Linked DNA regions of Homo sapiens. The protein of the gene in region 1 purifies or fractionates together with the protein of each later gene. This does not show direct contact. Each region holds a gene or a part of one and is shown in the gene's direction. Other genes may lie near its edges.

Region 1 (3,830 bases):
GCACGTATAGTATGATCTCAATTGTGTAATAATAATAATAAATTTAACATAAAATTATACTTTACAGAAACAATTCCAGAGGGATATATACCACTTGATAACAGTTGTTATCTTTAAGCAGTGATATGATGAGTGGTTACTGCAATTTTTTGTGTGTTATCAATAGTGAAAATATATTACATTTATAAGAAAACAATTTTAAAGCATTTCTTAGCATATATTGTTTCCTAAAACTGACTCAAATAATCAGATGGGCAGAAGATTTCTTACCATCTAGATATAAATGTCAACGAATATTTTATTTAATGATTTATGTTCAATAAATGGACAGCAGAGGTCATAAGAGAGTTTTCAGAAGAAAAGGTAACCAAAACAAAGAATTCAGCAATTTAGCTTAAGAGAAAAGCCATAAGAATTTAACTTTCTGAATTATAAACTATTTAAAAAGAGATATATCTTATGACTTCTATTATTCTTATGAAATATTAATAAACTCAACAATCTTAACTAATAACTATCAACATTGAGAAGTATTTAATGAATATATATAGGTACTAATTCTATTTGAAATCTCTATGTGAAACTGCAAATAGACAGTTTTATTTCTTCCTTTCTCATCTGTATGGCTTTTCTTTCCTAGTGTTATTGCACTGGCTAAGACCGCCACTACAATATTGAGTTGGAGTGGCAAAAGCAAAAATCCTTGATTTATTTCCTATTTATGAGGGAAATTTCAACAACAATTAGGAAGTTAGCAGTAGATTTTTAAAGATGCCCTTTAGCAAGTTAAGGAAGTTTACTTTCTAATTTGCTTAGACTTTTTATCATAAGTGAATGTTGCATTTTGTCAAATGCTTTTTCTGTATCTATGAAGATGATCATATTGTTTTTCTTCTGATTTATTGATATGTGTATTACAGTGATTGATTTTCAAGTGTTTCATTCCCTCAATAAGCTACATTTCATCATGTTATTGTCAGGGAGTTTTGGGTTGTCAATTTCCTGGCCAGAAACCTCTGTGGCCACAGCACCTTTGCCCGAATTCTTGTCCTGCATCCAGGAAGAATGAGGTACGCAGACAAGTGAAGGGTGAACGAGACGAAGATGAGCTTTATTAAGTGTTACAAGAGCTCAGAGGAGACCCACAGTGGGTAGCTCCTCTCTGTAGGAAGATCATCTGTCCAGCATTCAGTTCTCATTAGAGAGGTGGCCCTGGAGAGGGTAGCTCCTCTCTACTACTGGTTGTCCCAATGTCTGCAGCTCTCAGTGGAGAGGAGGCCCTGGAGAGGGTGCCTCCTGTCTGCTGGCAGGTTGTCTCTGAAGCTCTCGGCAGAGACGGTAGCTCCTTTCTGCAGCTGGTCCTTGTGTAGTCTGTCTATCCTCTTCGTCCTTTGGCCATCGTCTGCCCTGCTCTGGCTGAGCCCAGGGCTTTTATGGACCTCAGAGGGGAGGAAGTGCATGCTGATTGGTCCATGGGCAGCCATGGGCTGCTGGAAGAGGCCCCATGAGTCCCCAAACTGGTATGCAGGACCAGCAGTTGGCCCCCAGCCTTCAGGCCCTCCCTGGACTGAAGGTAGAGCCTTACTGGGGACCTGCCCCCTTCCACCCAAGAATCTGTCTGCCTCCCGCTGCCATTCATGGCCCCAGGGCTCAACCCCAACCCCACTCCAAGATCTGAGCCAGCTCCAGGAGAGGAGAGAGGTCAGGCAGCGGGAGCAGACACCCCAAGCCTGCAGGGATGGGGGGCCTTCCGGGGCACCAGAGGGTACAGGCTGCAGAGATGCCTGGGTCCCGTGGGTGAGAGGGCAGTGGCAGCTGCACCCAGGGAGCTCCCGCAGGCCAACTCAGCAGGGGCGGGATTCCCCAGCTCCTGCCTGCTCCATGTTGTGGGAGGCCCAGGTCAGCAGCTGCTGGTCAGGCGGCTGCAGCTGCACCCAAGAGGGCAGATCCTGCCTGTTCCCAGCCCCACTTCAAGAGCGCAGGGAGGCTCAGATCTACAGCTGCAGTTTGGGCGGCTGTAGCACCGTCCAGGAGGGTGGGGCTCCTGACTGCCCCATGGAGTGGGAGGCCTGGGTCTGCAGTCTCAGCCTTTCCTCCCTACTGCAGCCAGCGTGATGGCACCAGCCACTGCCATCATTATCTTTTCTATAAATTGCTAGATTCAACTTGCTAAATTTGTGAGGATTTTTACATTTTATTTTCATGAAGGATATTGGTCCAAAGTATTCTTTCATGTCTTTTTCTGGTTTTGATATTAGGGTAAAATTAGAAGGGCAAATGTTGCCTCTTTTATTTTATGGAAGATTGTTAGAATATTGTTAATATGGTTTAGTTTTATTTGTCCTGCTCAGAAGTCAATACGCTTTCTTTGTCTAAAGTCTCCAATTTATAAACCTTCAGCGTTTCCTTGCTCTTTCTATTCTTTACTTTTGGAGCTCTCATTTAGACATGTATTTTAATTTCTCATTCTGTCATCCATATCCCTTAACTGTGTTTATATGATTTATGCCTCTTCATCTTTTCGTATTTCATTCTGGATGATTTCCTCAAATCTATGTTCTAATTCATTAATTCCTTCCCAATCTTTGCTAATCCATTGTTTAATATCTGCATTGAATTTTTCATCCCAATGACTATATTATCATTTCTAGAATATTTATTTGGTTCTTTAAAAAATCTATTTTCTCTTATTTTAAACTGCTCCGTTTATTTTACTGTGGTTTCTTTACCTTCTCTTGCCTTTTTAATTATTTTAAACATACTGATGCAAAATTATTCTAGTCTGTTCTGTTATGAGGTTGCTGTTTCTCTTTTGCTACATAAACAAACTCTGTTTCATGGTGGTTTATTTCTTGTCATGGCTTATAAATTTTTATTTATAGCTCATCTTCAGCGGGAGTTCTCTTTTCTGAAAATCCTTTACATTCTAGATTACAATAAAATTTTTCTTGTTCCCTGTAGAACAATTTTGGATTTGCTTCAGTCAGAACTCGACCAATTTCCATGGTCATGGGCCAGGTTTTCGATTTTTATTTCCTTTTATTTTTGCTTCATTTCCTTCTGTGCAAAGTAATTCATTCATACAAAAGAATAAAGTATGAATAAAGTCTAAAGAATAATAGTAAAAAGAACATCTTTATGCCTAACACCCAGTTTAAGAAATAAGACATACCAATAAGTTTCAGTTTCCTTGTTTCTTTTTTCCTCCTTTATCTTCTGGCTTTCACTTAAAAGCAGGCTGAATTGAGAACTGTGTAGAAGAAAAGGGGCTCCTGCCACACAGAAATTGTAGGGAAATCCCGATTTTTTTCTTTCCGTTTTGGTCTGCTGGCCCTGCCACAAAGCCAGCTCCAAACATAGATTTGCACTGCCACTGCCAGGCTGTGAGGTTTCCTAAGAATAAAAGAGAACACTGTCTCTCTGAATAGAGGAACTGGAAAGAGAGTGTGTGGGGGAATCCCGATACTCTTTCTCTCTTTTTCTTGATATTTTACCTCGAGGGCAGCCCCAAGTACTTAGAAGTGAATGGCAGCATAAGGCAAAATCTTTAAGACAGCCTGATCCTTTTGGCCATAACAAAAGGGGCCCACAAAAACTGTAAAGTGTAGCCGAAATCCCATGTAGAAGAGAACTAGAGAAGGTGATCCTAATTCTATGTTTGAAACTACGTAAGTAACAGGGTCAGCCCTACTCCTGCACAAACATGGAGTACAGTAGGCCCCTCTTATCTTTGGCTTTGCTTTCTGAGGTTTCAGTTTCCCATGATGAACTGCAGTCTGAAAATATTAAATGGAAAATTCTGGAAATAACTTGTAAATTTTAAATTGCAC
Region 2 (2,750 bases), on another chromosome or scaffold:
ATCACCACATCCCCAGATTTAACCGCAGCAGCTCAGCTTTTATCTGTATCTGTTGGAGCTCTCTAGGAAATGTCAATACCAAAGCAAACCCAAATCACAACTAGATTAGATTACTATTCAAGAGAATGATTCTCTACCGAAACTCTGCAAAATGGGGATATCAAGAGAGTTGGAAAATGTAAGACGTAAAGACCATAATCAGGAAAATACGCATCATATTTGTTATTCACTGAGAGGGAGGAATTTCCACTTAAATCCTATTTCCAGCAGCTGGATTGTGCTCTCAGTGGAGTGCTCTGGATTCTGATTAATAGAGATTTTCTAGTCCTCCCAGCAACTTCCTTCTCAATTCTCTTCACTTTCCGCAGATCTCGGCACCAGGGTTGCATCTTGTGGGCTCCATTGTGTTTTCACACAATGTGCTATTTGTCCTTCACAGTGTTTTGGTTTATTTTTCTGTTTGTCCATCTTGTTTTTGAACAATTGCCAGCATTTAAAAATGAGGAAATCTAAAATCTGCATTTCAAGCTGCTCTTTTTTAAAATGTGCCGTTTCGACAACACTGAGCCCACAGTCTTGAATGACAACACTTGGGTGGAGCTGAGTGACTCCACCTGTCGGGTGGCTACACCCTTGCTCAGGGTATGCACTCCATGGTTTGCTCTATGGCCCACCATCCTGGATTGTCTCCCTGACACCAAGGCTAAGGGACCCACTTTACTCACTTATCTGCTGGGCCTTGGAAGTATTTCAGTTCGGAACCCCAATTCTAACCTTAGCTTCTCAGGCCATTAAATGAAATCTCATTTCTATGATGCTTCCTGTCACATCACTGTGCTGCTGAGAACATGAAGTCTGTGGGTGAATTGGTGGACGGGATCCAGAATCATTACTTGGCAGTGGATTATAGTGTGATGACTCATTTCCGGTGGTCTCCAGGAGACTTGGCTGGGAGCTTCTCTTGGAGTCTAGGGTTAGCCAGAGGCTACATGTTTTAGGCATCTTAATTCATATTTTATCTAAAGGCATATAAATCCTTAAAAAAAATCATTTGACTTCATCCTTGCTCCCTACATCCAGCCAGTAACCATTGCTTTGTTTTACATCGCGTGCTTCAGGCTTTACTACAGCCTACCTGGATTTTGCAGTAGCTTCTTAAACTGCTTAAACTTTGGATATTGCCCCAGCCAACACATTCTGCCACAGAGATCTCTCTGAGTTAAATGGGATTGTATCATGCCCCACACCCAAGCAGATAGAAACTGTCAATAGATACACTTAGAATGAATATGCATGGAATCAAATTACATTCAGAATCTACCACTATAGGTAGTGAATACAACAGGATAGCAGAGGCTGGGAAGGGTAATGGGGGTTGGGGGGTGGGAGGATAAAGGGGTTGGGTAATGGGTGTAAAAATCTATAGAAGGAATATGATCTGTTGTTTGGTAGCACAATAGGGTAAATACAGTTAATAATTTATTGTATATTTCACAATAAAGGAGTGGATTTGGAATGTTCTCAACACAAATGATAAATGTTTGAGGTGATGGATACCCCAATTACCCTGATTTGATCATTATACGTTGTATGTTTGTATCAAAATATCATATGTACCCCATAAATATGTACAACTATTATGTATCCATAAAAATTGGAAATAAACTACCACCATCTTTCTTCAGCCTATTTTCCTATCTCCTCTCGCACCATACTAGGCACACAATCTCTGTACCTGTGCTGTCTTCCAAGCCATTGCTCATGTTTTAAGAAATATACTTATTGTTTAATATATCCTGTACCACTGTAGGATGACTGTAGTTAACAATAATGTGTAGTTTCAAATAGCTAATAGCTGGAAGGAAGTTGTTGAATGTTTCCAACATAAAGAAATGATAAGTGTTTGAGATGATGGATATGCTAATTACCCTGATCTGATCACTACACATTATATGTATGGAAATATCATTGTGTACCCCATGAATATGGGCAATTATTATTTGTTAATTAAAAAAATAAAAAAAAGACCCACCCACTGTTTAAGTGTATCTACATCCTAGCTCTTTGTGGCACCTTTCCAGATCCTCCCAGATTAAATTACTGTCCTTTCTCTGTTCTCTTGAGACATTTTCCCAGCTATCAGTCTGCCCTGAGTTACAGTCACTTGTGTTTTTCTCATGCCCTAGATTTCAGTTTATGGAGGGCAGGGACTATTATTTATTCATTTTTTTATTTCCTGCACCCAGCAGATAGCTTCACACAATTGTTGAAAATTCATTTCTTTAAACAACTTGATGACTTGTCCTTATAGATCTGACAGCCAGTGTGACCGTCAAAAGAAGCTCCTAAACCTTTTCTTTTCTAAGCTAAACTTAGTTTGCTCATTTTCAAGTAACAGTATATGTGTGTAAAATATGTTTGGAATTATGTCACCTACAATTCTAATAATGAAACAATAGACAAATTTGGAAAATGGGTATTCTACAAGGCAATGAGCCTGGACTATAGAAAAAAGTCAAAATCATGAAGAGCACAAATCAAAATGACAAGGGGACTGTTCTATAGTTTAAAAAGACATAACCAAAGGCAGTGCATGGAAATCCATTGGATCCTTAATCAGAAATCAAAAGCCATAAAAAATATTTTGGAGACTGGAAGAAATTACATATGAGATGATAATATTACATTTCTTTGGTATAATGATGATATTGCAATTACATGTGAAAATGTCCTTATTGTTGGGACACATA

What was found.
Region 2: the proteins of CCDC146 (region 1) and RAB3IP purify together in Homo sapiens (affinity purification with mass spectrometry; 3 studies listed by BioGRID and IntAct, with this or other methods). This does not show direct contact.

Annotation. Positions count from the first base shown.
Region 1 is NC_000007.14:77,125,334-77,129,163, forward strand, and holds part of CCDC146 (coiled-coil domain-containing protein 146), read left to right. Parts: intron 1-1,172; exon of another isoform or gene 1,173-1,439; intron 1,440-3,172; exon of another isoform or gene 3,173-3,393; intron 3,394-3,830. UniProt on the Homo sapiens protein: Essential for sperm flagellum biogenesis and male fertility.
Region 2 is NC_000012.12:69,821,162-69,823,911, forward strand, and holds the end of RAB3IP (rab-3A-interacting protein isoform alpha 1), read left to right. Parts: 3' UTR 1-2,038; downstream 2,039-2,750. UniProt on the Homo sapiens protein: Guanine nucleotide exchange factor (GEF) which may activate RAB8A and RAB8B. Promotes the exchange of GDP to GTP, converting inactive GDP-bound Rab proteins into their active GTP-bound form.